4 linked regions of the Homo sapiens genome follow. The protein of the gene in region 3 purifies or fractionates together with the protein of the main gene of each other region. This does not show direct contact. Each region holds a gene or a part of one and is shown on either strand. Other genes may lie near its edges.

The links. Proteins that work in one complex are often made in the same cells at the same time.
Region 1: the proteins of ME1 (region 3) and NMI fractionate together in Homo sapiens (co-fractionation; one large-scale study listed by BioGRID). This does not show direct contact.
Region 2: the proteins of ME1 (region 3) and OTUD7B purify together in Homo sapiens (affinity purification with mass spectrometry, with the first as the bait; one study listed by BioGRID). This does not show direct contact.
Region 4: the proteins of ME1 (region 3) and USP19 purify together in Homo sapiens (affinity purification with western blotting; one study listed by BioGRID). This does not show direct contact.

What each region holds. Positions count from the first base shown.
Region 1 is NC_000002.12:151,272,226-151,276,932, reverse strand, and holds part of NMI (N-myc-interactor), read left to right. Parts: intron 1-1,068; coding exon 1,069-1,175; intron 1,176-1,262; coding exon 1,263-1,449; intron 1,450-4,707. UniProt on the Homo sapiens protein: Acts as a signaling pathway regulator involved in innate immune system response.
Region 2 is NC_000001.11:149,965,284-149,969,990, forward strand, and holds part of OTUD7B (OTU domain-containing protein 7B), read right to left. Parts: intron 2,239-4,707; coding exon 2,011-2,238; intron 596-2,010; coding exon 494-595; intron 1-493. UniProt on the Homo sapiens protein: Negative regulator of the non-canonical NF-kappa-B pathway that acts by mediating deubiquitination of TRAF3, an inhibitor of the NF-kappa-B pathway, thereby acting as a negative regulator of B-cell responses.
Region 3 is NC_000006.12:83,213,953-83,218,659, reverse strand, and holds part of ME1 (NADP-dependent malic enzyme), read left to right. Parts: intron 1-2,063; coding exon 2,064-2,162; intron 2,163-4,707. UniProt on the Homo sapiens protein: Catalyzes the oxidative decarboxylation of (S)-malate in the presence of NADP(+) and divalent metal ions, and decarboxylation of oxaloacetate.
Region 4 is NC_000003.12:49,110,381-49,115,087, reverse strand, and holds part of USP19 (ubiquitin carboxyl-terminal hydrolase 19), read left to right. Parts: coding exon 1-129; intron 130-214; coding exon 215-325; intron 326-803; coding exon 804-914; intron 915-994; coding exon 995-1,096; intron 1,097-2,458; coding exon 2,459-2,599; intron 2,600-2,685; coding exon 2,686-2,804; intron 2,805-3,039; coding exon 3,040-3,177; intron 3,178-3,274; coding exon 3,275-3,588; intron 3,589-3,722; coding exon 3,723-3,833; intron 3,834-3,921; coding exon 3,922-4,138; intron 4,139-4,224; coding exon 4,225-4,377; intron 4,378-4,483; coding exon 4,484-4,644; intron 4,645-4,707. UniProt on the Homo sapiens protein: Deubiquitinating enzyme that regulates the degradation of various proteins by removing ubiquitin moieties, thereby preventing their proteasomal degradation. Stabilizes RNF123, which promotes CDKN1B degradation and contributes to cell proliferation.

The sequences.
Region 1 (4,707 bases), on a different chromosome or scaffold from region 3:
TTTAGCATTTTACTAAACCTCTCCCATTTGCACAGGTAAATTAGACTTGACAGCTTTGTGATCAATATAGCAGGACTATCAACTTTTTAAAGAATGATTTCAAGAGCATTTTTGCAAAAGTGGAATTCGTCATTAAGTATGACCAAAAAAAAGACTCACTCTTTGATGTTCCAGCCTATGTAGTCTTTAACATGTAATCCTTGAGAAGACAGAGCAAATGAATATATATTGCTCTAGTGCTTGTAACATATTAAGGAGTAACAAATGATAAGGTTAAGTAAAATCAAGACTAATTGTACAAATGACACTTAGCCATGAAAGTTTTCCCAGCTTACTGAACATGGGACACTTTCTGGCTGTGCATTAATGTACTAGGGGAATCCTCTGGTAATTGTTAATAGTGGAAGGAAGGGTATGTGGCTGAGCTGAAGTAATATATGAATTCTGGAAGATTGTTAGGCTTATCTCTTAAGAGATAAGAGAAAAGATTCATCTTATGAGAAGAATCTAGAACTTGAGAACTTCTACATTGTGATTTTGCTGATATACTTTGACATTAATATATTCTACTTTGGGACCAAGAGCAGTGGCTCATCCTGATAATACCAGAACTTTGTCTGGGAGTCCGATGCAGGAGGATTGCTTGAGTCCAGGAGTTCCAGAGCAGCCTGGGTAACAAAGTGAGAGCTCGTCTCTACAAAAAGTTAAAAAAATTAGCTAGGCGTGGTGGCATGCACCTGTAATCATAGCTATTCTGGAAGCTGAGGTGGGAGGATCTCTTGAGCCCAGGAGTTTGAGGTTACAGTGAGCTATGATCACATCACTGCATTCCAGCTTCAGTGACAGAATGAGATCTGGTCCTCCTTCCCCCTGACCCCCCAAATTATATATTCTACTTTGGTAGCAAGACCATTATCACTTGGAATCACCGCCCGCCAAATTTTTAAAATTAGACCCTTTAATATTAAAGAAAATTAAAAATATTCAGGATAATTTGTTCTTAAACCAAAAGCATAACAATTCTTAAAATATTGGAAATTAATACTTCCTTCCTGAATTATTTTTCAGTTGCTCAAAATGTGGTAAGCATGAGTAAACATCATGTACAGATAAAAGATGTAAATCTGGAGGTTACGGCCAAGCCAGTTCCATTAAATTCAGGAGTCAGATTCCAGGTAACAGGATGATTAAAATTTTTTGGATTTCTGTTCATCACAAGCACTTCTCTCATCCATATTTCTGAACATCAAATCATTTTCCAGGTTTATGTAGAAGTTTCTAAAATGAAAATCAATGTTACTGAAATTCCTGACACATTGCGTGAAGATCAAATGAGAGACAAACTAGAGCTGAGCTTTTCAAAGTCCCGAAATGGAGGCGGAGAGGTGGACCGCGTGGACTATGACAGACAGTCCGGGAGTGCAGTCATCACGTTTGTGGAGATTGGAGGTACTCAAGGGTGTAGAAGGTTAACAGACACTCTGCCATTTCAGTCATGTTCTGTTGTTTCTGAAAGTATTCCTATTCTACTTCTTTTATTTGGAATGTATTAGCATGATAATTGGGGATTTTAAAAAACCTTATAAAATAGTAGAGTGTAGGAAATTATTTCCAGGGACAGTACTAGGAAAGATAATATTGCTACAAATAGGCAGGGTGCAGTGGCTCACCCCTGTAATCCCAGCACTTTGGGAGGCGGAGGCAGGCGGATCACTTGAGGTCAGGAGTTCAAGACCAGCCTGTCCAACATGGCGAAACCCCATCTCTACTAAAAATACAAAAATTAGCCAGGCATGGTGGCAAGTGCCTGTAATCCCAGCTACTTGGGAGGCTGAGGCAGGGAGAATCACTTGAACCCAGGAGGTGGAGGTTGCAGTGAGCTGAGATCACCAGGCATAGTGGTGCGTGCCTGTGGTCCCAGCTACTCAGGAGGCTGAGGTGGGAGGATTACTTGAGGCCAGGAGGTTGAGGCTGCAGTGACCTGTGATTGCACCACTGCACTACAGCCTGGGAGACAGAGTGAGACCCTGTCTCAAAAAACAAAATTAAAAAAAAAAATTGATGGATTAGATTTTTTCATGACAAAGTAATACATGCTTTTTTAAGGAAGGTGAAATAATACAGAAGAGCAAACATTTAGTAAAAATGAGACATTTCGGCCGGGCCCGGTGGCTCATGCCTGTAATCCCAGCACTTTGGGAGGCCGAGGCAGGCAGATCATGAGGTGAGGAGTTCGAGACCAGCCTGACTAACATGGTGAAACCCCGTCTCTACTAAAAATACAAAAAAATTAGCCAGGTGTGGTGGCGCATGCCTGTAATCCCAGCTACTCGGGGGGCTCAGGCAGGAGAATAGCTTGAACCCAGGAGGTGGAGGTTGCAGTGAGCCGAGACTACGCCACTGCACTCCAGCTTGGGCGACAGAGTGAGACTCCGTCTCAAAAAAAAACAAAAAGAGACATTTCCTCAAACTTCCCTTTCTCCTACTATTTAGTTAGTTATGGTTATTTGGGTGTCTTTCCAGGCTTTTCTCTGGGCACATTAAAACATGTCAATATCCTTTTTTTTTTTTTTTTTTTTTTTTTTTTTGTGAGACAGAGTCTTGCTCTGTCGCCCGGGCTGGAGTGCAGTGGCACTATCTCAGCTCACTGCAACCTCCGCTTCCCGGGTTCAAGCAATTCTCCCACCTCAGCCTCCCGAGTAGCTGGAATTACAAGTGCATGCCACCATGCCTGACTAATTTTTGTATTTTTGGTAGAGACGGGGTTTCACCATGTTGGTCAGGTTGGTCTCGAACTCCTGACTTCAAGTGATACGCCCGCCTTGGCTTCCCAAAGTGCTGGGATTACAAGCATGAGCCGCCGCTCCTGGCCCAATATGCATTTTTGACCTGAGCTTTTGGATGATGTTTAGGACATCCTGGTGGGATGTGTCAGGGAGAGCTATAAAAGGAAGGGGTCTTGAGGGCTACAGTAATATGTTGTCTTGGAAATGAACAATAACTTGGTGGAAACTTCCATAGTCAAGCATCCAGATTTTAATTTGCCAAATTCATATATTCATTTAGCCTGTTTGGTGTTAGTTTGTCTATATCTTGGATTTTAAAAAATCTGGCCAGGCGCAGTGGCTCATGCCTATAATCCCAGCACTTTGGGAGGCGGAGGCGGGTGGATCACTTGAGGCCAGGAGTTCAAGACCAGCCTGGCCAACATCGCGAGACCCCTTCTCCACCAAAAATACAAAAATTAGCGGATGTGCTGGCTCACGCCTATAGTCCCAACTACTTGGGAGGCTGAGGCAGGAGAATTGCTTGAACCTGGGGGGTGGAGGTTGCAGGGAGCTGAGATTGCATCACTGCACTCCAGCCTGGGTGACAGAGTGAGACTCGGTCTCAAAAAAACCGAAATAAAATAAATAAAATAAAATAAACTAGAATGCAATTTATAACTCTACTGTGAGAGATAATACTAGCTTTGGAACCTGTGTCCTTGGGCCATCTGGGGATGTTCTCCTAGAGGTTACATCTAGCCAGATGGGAAAAATACTTCTGCAGGTTATAGGTTATCCAGCAGGTAACTACTGAAGGATGTGAAGGTATTCTGGAGATAAATATGCCAGATACTTCATAAACTGTGTCTTACTGACTCATCACAATAATCTACAGGGTAGGTACTGTAATTATGCTTATTTTACAGAAAAAGAAACTGAGGCTTTAAGAAGTCAAGCAACATATCCAAGGCCACATAGCTCATAAGTAGCAGAGCTAGGACTGAAGCTGGTCTATTTGACTCAGGACCTGTACTCTTTTTTTTTTTTTTAACTGTGATAAAATATATATAACATAAAATTTACCATTTTAACAATTTTTAAATGTACAATTCAAGGGTACTAAGTACATTCACAATGTTGTACAACCATCACCACTATCCATCTCTAGAACTTTTTAATCACCCCAAACTGAAACTCTGTACCCATTTAACAATAATTCTCCATTACCTCTTCTTCCAGCCCCTGGTAACCATCATTCTACTTTCTGTCTCTATGAATTTGCCTATTCTAGGTACCTCATTCAAGTGGAATTATACAATATTTGTCCTTTTCCTGTCTGTCTTATTTTGGTTAGCATAATGTTATCAGGGTCCATCCATGTTGTGGTATGTATCAGAATTTCATCCTTTTTAAAGGCTGAATAATATTCTCTGTGTGTGTGTGTATTTTATATATCCATTTTGTTGATCTGTTCATCTGTTGGTGGATGCTTGGGTTGCTTCCACCTTTTGCCTATTGTGAAAAATACTGCTCTGAGCATTAACGAGCAAGTATCTGTCCGAGTCCCTGCTTTCAGTTGTTTCGGGTATATACCCAGAAGTTGAATTGCTGGATCATATCATGTTCTATTTTAATATTTTGGGGAACTGTCATACTGTTTTCTACAGTGGCTGTACCATTTTACATTTCTATCAGCATTGCCTCAGGGTTTCAATTTCTCCATATTCTCGCCAATGAGGGCCTACACTCTTAATCATTGTACCATATTGCTGATCCAAGGTAGATGAGTGAGAAGAGTCATAAAAAACATGGTTGTATATTCCCAAGAACTGTTTTTGTTAAATGTTACAGTCTTGACACACATCCTTTCACCACTCTAGGAGAAAAAAATACTGCTAAAAAATAGACTATTCTTTGTGTTGTAGAAAACTGATGAATT
Region 2 (4,707 bases), on a different chromosome or scaffold from region 3:
TTGAACCCAGGGGTGGAGGTCACAGTGAGCTGAGATCACACCACTGTACTCCAGCCTGGGCAACAGAGTGAGACTCCGTCTCAAAAACTAAATAAATAAATAAAATAAAGTAAGTGTGTGTTACAAAGGACTGCTAAAAACATACCTTTTTCATACAACAAAAGAATAAATATTAAGTAGAATTGTACACATACACACATCTAGCTATACACTGCTGGCTTACTCCTACTCATTACTCCTGGGGTCAGCTTTCAAAGCCAGCCCAAGCTAATATCTGTGCTCTCTTCACTATCTCACTAGCAAAGGTAGGGCTCACTCCCATTTCCTCTTGTGCCAACATAAACACACAGACACACACGTAAGCATGCACAATCTCGCTCTGAACCATCATTTCCGCCTAAGATCAAGGTTATCTGGATCAAGTCCTACACATGAGATTTGACTCAACTGCTTCCTTTCTGCAGGTGAATGGAGGACTGCTTTCAAGACTCACCAAGGGAGGCTGCATGCAGGAGGCAGTTCCCATCTCCAGTAGTTGCCAAAGGAAGCAGCCTCTGAGAGGTGGGATCCACACTCACCCACCAGTTCAAACGCCCTGTAGAAACAAGATAGTGGAGGAAAAGGAGATTATCCATGAAGCCCTTCCACCTTCCTATTTCTGAAACAGACTCCAAAGCAGCCTCCTCTAGGAGGCCTACCCAGAATAAAACCATCACTTGATTACTCTTTATATCTTCCTCACTTATATCTAGTCAGTCAGAATCTTGTGAGCACAATTGGTTAGATCAGTGAGTAGGGTCAATTTTGTCCCAAAGGGACACTGGCAATGACTGAAGATATGTTTGCATGTCACAACTGGTAGCAGGATGCTACTGGTATCTAATGGGTAGAGGCCAGGGATGCTGCTAACCATGATATAATGCACAAGGCAGCTTGCAAAACAAAGAATTATCTAGACCAAAATGTCAATAGTGCCAAGGTTGAGAAACCCTGGGTTAAATGACGAGGCCAAGGACATAAGTTGAAACTGTTGACTGCTTGGACTGGCCCTGATTCCTTCCCTCCACTCAGGAGACCAGTATGTATCACAGCAACAAAGCTCAGCAAAAATCCATCATGAACAAAACAAAAACAACTCAAAGCATGTATTTAAGGTGTTTTATGAGTATCATCTGCATATATGACAGCATGTCATCACGTGTGGGGTGTGACTTTAAAGGAATGAGCAATAAGATAAAGTACATAAAATATCCAAGAAAATAAGTCTTAATTCCATGCAGTCATCCCACAATTGCCAACCCATTATTTACATGAGGAAAATATCTTATGAGTGATGCATAAGTTTTCTTGAACTACTGTGGAGCATAGTTTTTGAACTACTGAATGAAAAACTGGCTTATAAACTCCCCAGACCAGATAATTTACCAACTTAAAAAAAAATTACAAATAGATGTATATGGTTAATATAGAAGGTTACAAAATGAAAAATAAAAGCTTCCTTTCCATGCCCTCATCTAACTCCAGTTCTTATCCCACACAAGCATTTTAATGCCTGATTAGCTTTTCCAAAATTCCCAGCTGCCTCACCCTATGATAAGAATTAATTTTAACAATAATTTAAGATAAACACAATTACAAACGTAAATACATTTGGGGGGATAGGTTCACTACTGTGCATCATCTACAGCATTGGTCATTTCTGTTCACAAGGGTGTTCCAGGGCCAATTATAATTAGTTGTATTTTTTTCATGTATTGATTTCGAGGTATTGATTCCTAGGCCTTTTCACATGTGTATCTGGTTTCTCTTCCATCAACCAGGAAATTCCCAGAGTAAAGTATCTAATCTGTATCCATTCTTTGACAGCACAAGTTTATCCCACTGACTCCTGACTTTGCAATCAGATAACACACTTAAACTGGAAGCTAGCGATCAAGTCCAGCCCCTCCACAAGGCTGCCTGTAGGTGGAGAGTAGAGGGAAGAGTGTGGGAGAGGAAGCACTCACTGACCTGCCTGTTCCAAGGCAACCAGCATGGACTGCTCAATGAGGTCTCTCTCTATGAAGCTGCGGAAGTCTTCATTGTATACAGTGAGATCTGGAAGCTGGAAGGCACAGATGGGCATTTCCAGGGGGTGCTCATTGCTCCCCCCACCCCCACCATTGGAGGAGACATGGGACCGGGCCAGGGAAACAATGCTGGAGCTGGCGTGGGAGATGCCCCTAGACAGGCGTTTTTCTGCAATGAGAAATGGAGTCACCTTAGAACATACACAGCCCACTTGGAGAACTCTACACTGATGTGGTGATAGTTACCTCTCAACAGGGTTTACAGTCAGAGAAAAACTAAGTCTAACTGACTACTGAATTTCAGAACCCTTTTTCTGAAGCCAAATACAATTGGAGAAATAGAGACAGTATTTTTGTAGGCACTCACATTAGCACCAAATTATTCATTCCTCTTTCTGCCCTTGTTTGGAATTTGCCTGATCTTCCCCTCCCTCTGACTGTCTTCCTCCACTTCCATATTTCCCAGTGTGATAGGGACCCATTCATTTAGCAATTTGGTCATTGTTTGGTGGGAGGAGAGGGAATAAGGGAAGTGAGGTTTCACTAGACTAGAGTTAGTCAAATAACCTCTCTGGTAATTCTCAGGGTCTTGGGAAATACCTTTTCTAAAGGGTATTTTCATTCTAGAAAGATTATAAAAGAAATCCATTATAGAAAAGAAAATCCTTTGGGAGGCCAAGGCAGGTGGATCACCTGAGGTCAGGTGTTCAAGAGCAGCCTGACCAACGTGGTGAAACACTGTCTCTACTAAAAATACAAAAATTAGCCGGGCATGGTGGTGTGCCCCTATAATCCCAGCTACTCGGGAGGCTGAGGTGGGAGAATTGCTTGAACCTGGGAGGCGGAGGCTGCAGTGAGCCAAGATTGTGCCACTGCACTCCTGCCTGACAACAGAGCAAGACCCCGTTTCAAAAAAAAAAAAAAAAGACAATCAACAACAAATCTTACACATTTGGGAACTTTCTTCCTACATCAATAACATTAATTTATATTGCTTACTACAACTACTCTCAATACCCATATTTATCAGAAATTTATAGGGACAGTCAATTCTTAACAGTCTATAGAGAACAATAATGTAGATAGTACCCCACATCATTTCATTTGTTTTGAATACATGACACTTGTAATTCCCAAGCAGATATTCCACTGTGATTATAATTTGCTCAATGTAGTATTACAGTTCATTTGTATGGCTTCAATTATGTAATGATTTAATGATGATCCAAAGGGGGCAAAATTTCAAAAGCATGTTGGGCTGTTCTTAATACAACATTTGCCAGATATGATACACAAAATAAACTGAGTTGTCTAAAGTTATCTTATAGTGATGTTATTTTTCAAATATTTTTTAGTTTTGTTTGTTTTTGTTCTTTGAGACAGAGTCTCGCTCTGTCGCTCAGGCTGGAGTGCAGTGCTGCAGTCTCGGCTCACTGCAACCTCTGCCTCCCAGGTTCAAGGGATTCTCCTGCCTCAGCCTTCTGAGTAGCTAGGATTACAGGCACACGCCACCACACCCAGCTAATTTTTTTTTTTATTTTAGCAGAGACGGGGTTTCTCCACATTGGTCAGGCTGTTCTCCTCAAACTCCTGGCCTCAGGTGATCTGCCAGCCTTGGCCTCCCAAAGTGCTGGGATTACAGGCGTGAGCCACCACACCCACCTTAAAAATATTTTTTAGGTATTCGTAGGCTGAGCATGGTGGCTCACACCTGTAATCCCAAAACTTTGGGAAGCCAAGGTAGAAGGATCACTTGAGCCCAGGAATTCGAGACCACCTGGGCAACAGAGTGAGACCTAATTTCTACAAAGAATCAAAAATTTAGCTAGGTGAGGTGGTGCGTGCCCATGCTCCCAGCTACTTGGGAGGCTGAGGCAGTAGGATCCCTTGAGCCTAGGAGGTTTAGGCTGTAGTGAGCTGTGTTCCACCAGCCTCACTCCAGCCTTGGAGGACAGAGCAAGACCCTGCCTCAAAAACAGTACCATGTGCCTATGGTAAAAAATCAATATACCATCAAAAGGTATAAAATGATTTCACAAGGAAGTCTTCTTATCATTCAAAATTCCTGATCCCTTCCCCAGAGGCAAACTTTTGTATCCTTCTAGAAATTTTTATGCATACAGAAGCATATACAGGTTTTGGCCGGGCACGATGGCTCACGCCTGTAATCCCAACACTTTGGGAGGCCGAGGCAGGTGGATCACAAGGTCAGGAGATCGACACCATCCTGGCTAATACGGTGAAACCCCATCTCCACTAAAAATGCATGTACAGCTTTTAAAATCATCTTTTAAAACGCAAATGAGAGTATACTACATACATTGCATTGTGTCTTACCTTTTTGAAAAAAATTATATATTTTTTTATATGGAGTCTCACTCCGTCACCCAGGCTGGAGAGCAGTGGTGCAATCTAAGAGGTTTACTACAACCTCTGCCTCCTGGGCTTAAGCAAGTCTCCTGCCTCAGCCTCCCAAGTAGCTGGGATTACAGGTGTGCACCACCATGCCCAGCTAATTTTTGTAATTTTAGCAGAGACAGGGTTTCACCATGTAGGCCAGGCTGGTCTCGAACTCCTGACCTCAGGTGATCCACCAGCCTTGGTCTCCAAAAGTGCTGGGATTACAGGTGTGAGCCAT
Region 3 (4,707 bases):
GGTCCAAATCTGGCCCTCTGATGTAGGATGTCTGGCTTCAGCCTAGCTTCCTTACACTTCTTCAGGTCCCCAGGGATGCAGAGGCCTCCTCTGCTATGGCCGCTTGACCTTGGAAACTCATGTACCCATACCAGATCCACTGATGGGAATGTATACAGCTTACAGCCACCCTGTCTGTCTGGCTCTCCCTTTCCCATTCTCTTCTCTGCTTAAGTACACATACCTATAACTGCTCACGCTGAGGAGGGGAAAAGAATGCCCCCCAGTCTTTCCTTGAGGACACCATAAGCCTTTAAGAAGGAGTAGCATGCACCAAGAAGAGGGGAGGAAAAAGCCACTACATTACCCAGTAGGCCAAACCATGGTTCCAGCAAATTTCCCTGCCTCTCACTAGCTCAGCCTTCTGGAAGGGGGTGGCTGTGGTTTGTGGGGTTGGCAGGGCTGATTCTACTTTCTGAGGTAGATGGCAAGCCCCACTTGTTTGGTGACTTCCTGATAGTGTGGAATAGTTAACGTATCTTTGTCCTGAAGTTTGGGACCCTGATGACCAATTCTAGGGCAAACATCCTGTTACAAAGGCAAGAAATTAATGAGTTAAATGATGAGTTTATTATAAAATTATGGTCAACACCCTACAATTATATGTTATAATATTTTGTATAATATGTAGAGCAATACTAATCAAACAAATAGTTATACTAGTAACTTTACCTCCTTCTCCTTTCCATCTTACCTCTGCCTAAATGTCCCTGGTCAGAAGTCCTTAGTCACCGACGGGATTTAACTCCAAACTCCTTTTTTGACATTGATAATGCTCCAGTCCTTATTTCTGTACCCAGACCCTCTGCTCCCCCAGGTCAGGACACTTGGGCCTGCTGAGTCCAGCTCACACACAACTCTGCCTTTGGTCTGACTCTGTTTTTTGTCTGAAATGCCTACCTACTTTCTGTTTGTCTAACTCCAGGCTTTCCTGTAGGTTTGCCTTTCAAGCCACTGTGCACTATAAGGCCTTCCAGAACTGCTCTTCCTCTGGATTTCTTAGCACCCACATTTCACCATTAGCCTAAGCCGTCTTCTCTTTCAGCGTTCTCTTTTTCTTCCCGTACTCTGTTACCTTACTAAATTATACATCTCTCAAGGACAATAACACTTTTCTTAAGCTTCTCCGTAGTGTTATGCTTGTTCAGTGCATATATGTTTGCTGATGGCAAAGAATAATATTTTGGAAATAATTTCATGATTTAAAAATCTAAAAGATATTAAGATATACTGAAAAATAAGTATTTGATTATTTAAAATGTTACAAAAGAGGAAGGTTTCCTACTCCCTCTCTGCATCCACATTTTCATGGAACAAAGGCCTAGGTATAAGCTGATTTAGATTTGCCCCCATCTAGAAATTTAATCAAAGTCTTAGAGCTGGAGAGAACATCAGGGTTACTGAGTCTCCCTCTCTGCCTTAGGGTTCAATACAAAATTTAACACTGTTTGATTTGGAACTAGGGAATGGTTTGGGGACAGTAAATGTTGAGGCTAATTAGGTGATTTAGATAATCCAGAGTCTGTGTAAAATTAAAATCCTATTTGTAGTGAGACTCTGAACTAGCTTTCTCAGCCTTTTGCTCTACCTCCTGCACAAGAATATGACTCAGAGCTGGGAGTAATGGCATGCTTAGCCTTGGATAGCTGTCCTCCTCTGCTTTCAGGATCCATTTTCATTACTCTATCATCTTCCTCTTTCTTTCTTTTCTTTTCCCTTGTTCCCCTAATGTATCAATTGGAAAGTATCTAGCATTTCATGGTACAATAGAAAAGGAAGTGGACTAAAAGGAAACCTAGATTCTATTCCCATCTTTTTCACCAATTATGTGATCTCAACCACCACCACACCACTCTGGGCTTATTTCTTTGTTGATAGAAGTGGGGATGAAATTAGGTAATCATATTAATGTCACTGGTTTTTGTATAGACCATTATATGTAACCGTTCACTTAGTTATTGGCGTACCCACCACATTGTATCGTGTGAAGTATAAACACTTTTTTTCTTTCTTTTTTTCATAAGGTTATAGCTCAGCAAGTGTCAGATAAACACTTGGAAGAGGGTCGGCTTTATCCTCCTTTGAATACCATTAGAGATGTTTCTCTGAAAATTGCAGAAAAGGTAAAACCACTCTTGTTCAAGCTTCATTATTTTTCCTTCCTTTTCTTGCTAAATATGCATTTTTAAATATTAAAAATCTGCTTCCTTGAAATGTATATCTGTATCAACTTACTATGTCAGAAGTCAGAGAAATGAGGCACACTGACACTGTAGAGCTTAGGAGCTACATTTGCTTCTCAGAGAAGAATGGAAGTATTGGGCCGAATAATTAATTTCCCTCTCTATCGTTCTTTTTTTCTCCTAAAATTTAAATAATTCATTAGGGCTTCCTGTCAGCCAGATTTCTCCCATTTCACCTTTTTAAAGTTGTTCTTTTCTATATCACATTAGTGATAATTAACCAAAATATTACAGATATGTTAGAGTAACATTTAGACCTTGAACCACCTTCCATATCCATGTCACTATGATGTGTGGCATCATAAATGACAGATCACAACTGATAATACTGGGCGGAAGGCAAAATAAAGAGGTCAAAGAACTTGAAAGCTGTTTGGGTGGCAGATGAGCTACTGAAGGAGTTAGCCAAGAAGAACCCAAAGGCAGAGAAATTTTCTGTAACTAAACTGGAAGATAAGTGGACTTTTTTTGCAGTGTAATTGTATTAGTTTTCTTGGGCTGGGATAACTACATACCACGGTTATGTAGTAACTGTTTTTAAATATTCAAGCCACAGACTGTGTGGCTTAAACAACAGAAAACTATTTTCCCATAATTCTGGGAGCTAGAAGTCTAAGATAAAGATGTTTGCAGGTTTGGTTTCCTCTGAGGCCTCTCTCCTTGGCTGGCAGATGGCTGCCCTCTTTCTGTGTCCCCATATGGCCTTTTCTCTGTGTGTGTACACGCTTGTGTGTCCAAATTTCCTCTTCTCTTAAGGACACCTATCAAATTGGATTATAGACCATTCTAACCGTCTCATTTTAACTTAATTATCTCCTTAAAGGCCTATTTCTAAATACACTCACATTCTGAGGTACTAGTGGTTAGGGCTTCAACACTGAATTTGGGGTGGGAGGAACACAGTTTAGCCATGACAGTAGTTATATGTTTAAATTGGGGTTTCTCTACTTCAGCGTTGTGGACATTTTGGGTCAATAACCATCATGCGGCTGTCCCAGGCATTGTACAATCTTCAGCAGCATTCCTGGCCTCTGCCCACTAGATGTCAGTAGCATCTGCTCAGTTGTATCAACCAAAGCTGTTTCCAGACATTGTCAAGTATCCCCTTGGGGGCCAAATTGCTCCAGATTGAAAATCACTAGCTTAAGCTATTAGCAAGTTATCTAAACAACACCATTTAAGAGTCACATATCATTATTTATCTCGTTGACTGAAGGCAGTCTCTTAAAAAAAGAAGTAATTCTCTAAAAACCTTTACATAATAATCTGCTTGGTTATCTATGAAAAAGTATGTTCATATATTCTACTAATATGTATCTGCTAGTTTTTAAGTAGTTTAAACTATTAATATACTGAATAGCATATTATCATTTTAAGTTCATTTTGGAGATTTAAATGAAAAAGAGTTAGCTTATGATTAGAGGGGAAAAAAAGCAGGGGACAGCAGGGGAGTGCCAAAAGATTCAGATATCACACCTAGAATAATGGAAGAATACAGAGTGCATACACAGAAATTGAGAAACTAGAACAAAGAACCAACTTCAGAGAGGGAGATCATGTAAGTGGACTGCAAGTTTGAGGTATCAATGGCACATTCAAATGTACCATTTTATCAAGTAGATAGAAATGACTGAAACTTAAAGAGAGGCTAGATAAAAGACCTGGGCATCTTCTGCATGTGGTAACTGGTGAATATCTAGGAGTGGGTGAGGTTGCCAAGAAAGCAAGTATAGAAAGGAAATAAAAATGAGAATAGAATATAGTTTATTATTCTGTCTAGAAGACAGAAGAAAGATGCCAGTTAAGAAGAGAAGTGGTCAGGATTTTAAGAGACTCCAAACTGAGCAGCATGTCAATAATTAGGAAAGAGACAATTTCAGAATGGGAGTGGAAATTGTGACCAACACAGCCAAATCCTGGAGAGAAAAACAGATGCAGACTTTTATTTGGTACTTAACAAGTTATCAGAGACTTTTACAAAAGAAATTTCAAGATGTACAGGAGGTTCAGAAGGCAGAGAATTAGGAAAGCAATAAAATATAAGCCACTCTGTCAGAGAGTTTGGCATTGACAGGACAGAGAGAGTGAAGATTTCATTGGGAGAAGGGATTATTTCTATGGTATAACTGGGAGCAGAAAGAGGAGATGAATTTCCACATAGTCTATGTCAGTAATGAAACAATGTGTTTTATTATAAAATTAACATAGCCATCTTAAGTAGGCATGAGGGATCTTTTTGGGGTGATGGAAATATTCTAAAACTGAATGTGGTAATATTGTTGCACAGCTCAGTAAATTTACAAAAATAATTTAGTTGTACACTTAAAATGCTTGAATTTTGTGTGAATTATATCTCAATAAATCTGTTTAAAAAGTAATACTACCATATTATGGGCACTTTGGAAAACAAATAGAGAAAAGGAAA
Region 4 (4,707 bases), on a different chromosome or scaffold from region 3:
ACAGGCTATGCACAGCATGATGCCCAGGAGTTCATGGCTTTCCTGCTGGATGGGCTGCACGAGGACCTGAATCGCATTCAGAACAAGCCCTACACAGAGACCGTGGATTCAGATGGGCGGCCCGATGAGGTCAGGGTTAGGGACAGAGGGTGGGCATGTCTCATGAGCATCCCAGCCCCTGGTACTCTTTGGTTCTCACCACTCTGCCTCTCAGGTGGTAGCTGAGGAAGCATGGCAGCGGCACAAGATGAGGAATGACTCTTTCATCGTGGACCTATTTCAGGGGCAGTACAAGTCGAAGCTGGTGTGCCCTGTGTGTGCCAAGGTGTGATGGGCTCCCCTGGAAAGAGACCCCCTAGTTCAGCTCAGCTATTCTGGTCACATTAGGTTCAGAGGCATGTGCATCTTAAGGTGCTACAGGGCAAGGTTTGGGCAAAGAAGCTGGCAGGGAGGCCTTAGGATTCTATTTGGGCTGAAGAGCCCACTCAGGGTAGGCTTCCTGACTGAGGGAAAAGTGATGTTAGAGCTCAAAGGTGTTGTAGCAGGGTTGTGGGCACATGGGGTGCAAGTGTGAGGCCAATTCGTAAAGTGGCTAAGCTGAGTAGGGCTTTGAGTGCCAGAAAGAAGGATTGTTATTTCCTGGTGGTCCTCCTGCCCTGTCTAGTGTCCTGAAGCCTGAGAGTTTGCTGGTTGGCTGTGGGGGCCCTGAGAGCCATCAGAAGCCCCGGAATGGGCTCTCTGAGCATGAGCATCTTATCTCCCACTCTGTGTGCAGCTACCCAGTGCCACCTCTACATCCACAGGTCTCCATCACTTTTGACCCGTTTCTTTATCTGCCGGTGCCCTTGCCACAAAAGCAAAAGGTTCTCCCTGTCTTTTATTTTGCCCGAGAGCCCCACAGCAAGCCCATCAAGGTGAGGAGTAAGCCCCTACCCTCTGGGCTGTTCTAGAGAACGTGGCCCACCTCCCTCACTGACTGCCCTTTTTGCCACAGTTCCTGGTGAGCGTCAGCAAGGAGAACTCCACTGCGAGCGAAGTATTGGACTCCCTCTCTCAGAGTGTTCATGTGAAGCCTGAGAACCTGCGTTTGGCGGAGGTATCTTTGTCCTTCCTTGGGCTATCACATGTGTGGATGTGTGTGTGTACTCACCACAGACGTGTGTACAGTCATTGGCATCTACAGACATACACATGGGCTGGGCACAGTGGCTCATGCCTGTAGTCCCAGCACTTTGTGAGGCCGAGGTGGGCAGATCACTTGAGCCCAGGAGTTTGGGACCAGCCTGGGCAACTTGGTGAAACACTGTCTCTACAAGAAATAAAATTAGCTGGGCATGGTGGTACGTGTTATAGTCCCAGCTACTTGGGAGGCTGAGGCAAGAGGCTCACTTGAGCCCGGGATGTGGAGGTTGCAGTGAGCAGAGATTGCACCACAGCACTCCAGCCTGGGTGACAGAGTGAGACTCTGTCTCAAAAATAAATAAATAAATAGATAAAAAAATAAAAATAGGGCCAGGCGTGGTGGCTCATGCCTGTAATCCCAGCTCTTTGGGAGGCCAAGGCTGATGGATCACAAGGTCAGGAGATCCAGACCACCCTGGCTTACATGGTGAAACCCCACCTCTACTAAAAATACAGGAAAAGTTAGCCGGGCGTGGTGGCACATGTCTGTAGTCCCAGCTGCTCAGGAGGCTGAGGCAGGAGAATCGCTTGAACCTGGGAGGCAGAGGTTGCAGTGAGCCGAGATCGCGCCACTGCACTCCAGCCTGGGTGACAGAGTGAGACTCTGTCTCAAAAATAAAATAAAATAAAATAAAAATAGACATACACATGAGTATGCCTGTGACTGTACAAAAACAGGCGATGTGCTGTTATTTTTTCTGTGCAACAGAAGTGCCCTCAGTTCCTAGCCATTATCAGGGTTTATTCCCCTTTGTGGTGGTGGATCCCAACTGCATTTCCCTTTTTAGACAAGGAGCTTGAGCTGCAGGACTATCCCTATGTTCGCTCTGCCTCTCCCTCTATCCTGCTGCTCTCTCCTTTTATCCCAGTTGTGTGTGCTAGCTCTCCCCAGGGGTTCCTAGCCTTTAGCCTGACAGTGTTGGTTTTCTTAGGGGTAAGAGTGGGGAGGAGGCTCTTTGAATGTGGACCCTCCATGATAATATGTTACAGTCTTATAAGGCTATGCTAGTTATAGCAGGGCAGAGTCCCTCAGTGTGGAGAGCTGGTGTGGTTGATATCTGCCTCACACCTGGTCTTTCAGGCCCTCTGATGCACCAGGCTCCTTATGGCATTGGGCACTGAGACAGGTGCCAGCAGAGGCATAAGCCTATTTGGGCCTACAGACCTCACCACTGCCCACATAGACCCAAGGCAGGGCCAAGCCTTCTTAAACTCTGGGGCAGGGCTAGGGAAAGGGCTTATCCTCACGTGGGATCTGTGTGTTCTCTGTCCCCAGGTAATTAAGAATCGTTTTCATCGTGTGTTCCTACCCTCCCACTCACTGGACACTGTGTCCCCATCTGATACGCTCCTCTGCTTTGAGCTGCTATCCTCAGAGTTGGCTAAGGAGCGGGTAGTGGTGCTAGAGGTGCAACAGGTGAGTGGGGGCCAACCTGATGGCACAGCGCCCTGGTGGGTGGGGCACTTCTTCCTGGTCTTGCTGAGCCAGACGACCCACCCTAGCGCCCCCAGGTGCCCAGCGTCCCCATCTCCAAGTGTGCAGCCTGCCAGCGGAAGCAACAGTCGGAGGATGAAAAGCTGAAGCGCTGTACCCGGTGCTACCGTGTGGGCTACTGCAACCAGTGAGGACCCCCATGGTCTCCCCTACCCTTTCTTTCCACCTTCCATGTGCCACCCTGCTCCTTCCCTTCACACCAAGGCACATATGCTTAAGCTTTCTACTTGCCACCCTACTTTACCAGGCTCTGGGGGAGGCAGGGCTGGCGTACCCAGTTCCCAGGGACTATGACTAGCCCCCAGTATGGAGTCATAGGAGATGGGGCTAAGGGCCTATCCTTGTCTTCCTCTTCCCGTCAGGCTCTGCCAGAAAACCCACTGGCCTGACCACAAGGGCCTCTGCCGACCTGAGAACATTGGCTACCCCTTCCTGGTCAGTGTACCTGCCTCACGCCTCACTTATGCCCGCCTCGCTCAGTTGCTAGAGGGCTATGCCCGGTAAGTGCCCAGTGGTTGGACTAGAGTGGTGTAGGTGGGGGCAGAGGTGCTAGATGGGCTGGTCAGGAGTCTTACTTGCGTTGTTCTCTGTTGCCAGGTACTCTGTGAGTGTATTCCAGCCACCCTTTCAGCCAGGCCGCATGGCCTTGGAGTCTCAGAGCCCTGGCTGCACCACACTGCTCTCCACAGGTTCCCTGGAGGCTGGGGACAGCGAGAGAGACCCCATTCAGCCACCTGAGCTCCAGCTGGTGACCCCTATGGCTGAGGGGGACACAGGGCTTCCCCGGGTGTGGGCAGCCCCTGACCGGGGTCCTGTGCCCAGCACCAGTGGAATTTCTTCTGAGATGCTGGCCAGTGGGCCCATTGAGGTTGGCTCCTTGCCAGCTGGCGAGAGGGTGTCCCGACCCGAAGGTAAGATCCAGTGAAAGGCTCTAGAAGCTGGGGAGGAGGATAAGGGAGGATGGAGGGGGCTGTTGTTTAGGGCCTGGTGGGCCTGGTGAGGCCCTGATGGGCAGGGAAGCTTTGATTATCATGTTCTCACACAGCTGCTGTGCCTGGGTACCAGCATCCAAGTGAAGCTATGAATGCCCACACACCCCAGTTCTTCATCTATAAAATTGATTCATCCAACCGAGAGCAGCGGCTAGAGGACAAAGGTGTCTGAGGCTGTGGGTGGGAGCCATGGGGTGGGTTGAGCTGGCTGTTCTCCACAGCTGCATGACCTCTCTCCCTGCGAATCTCCAGGAGACACCCCACTGGAGCTGGGTGACGACTGTAGCCTGGCTCTCGTCTGGCGGAACAATGAGCGCTTGCAGGAGTTTGTGTTGGTAGCCTCCAAGGAGCTGGAATGTGCTGAGGATCCAGGCTCTGCCGGTGAGGCTGCCCGGGCCGGCCACTTCACCCTGGACCAGTGCCTCAACCTCTTCACACGGCCTGAGGTGCTGGCACCCGAGGAGGCCTGGTGAGAACAGAGCAGCAAGTAGATAAGGGGGCAGGATGGAGAAGAGAGAGACTTGCTGGTCCTGACCCAATCTCTGTCCCCACCAGGTACTGCCCACAGTGCAAACAGCACCGTGAGGCCTCCAAGCAGCTGTTGCTATGGCGCCTGCCAAATGTTCTCATCGTGCAGCTCAAGCGCTTCTCCTTTCGTAGTTTTATCTGGCGTGACAAGATCAATGACTTGGTGGAGTTCCCTGTTAGGTAAGCAGTGGACCTTGGTAACTGTGGGTGGGGTGTGAGGACCAGGATGGGCATCCTGAGCGCCTGTTGCCTGTCTCACCCCTCCCTGACTGGACCTGACCTGCAGGAACCTGGACCTGAGCAAGTTCTGCATTGGTCAGAAAGAGGAGCAGCTGCCCAGCTACGATCTATATGCTGTCATCAACCACTATGGAGGCATGATTGGTGGCCACTACACTGCCTGTGCACGCCTGCCCAATGATCGTAGCAGTCAGCGCAGTGACGTGGGTGAGGGCACACACAGCCAGCAGGATAGGTGGTAGGGGTGGTGGTGCAGACTTTGTTCACACT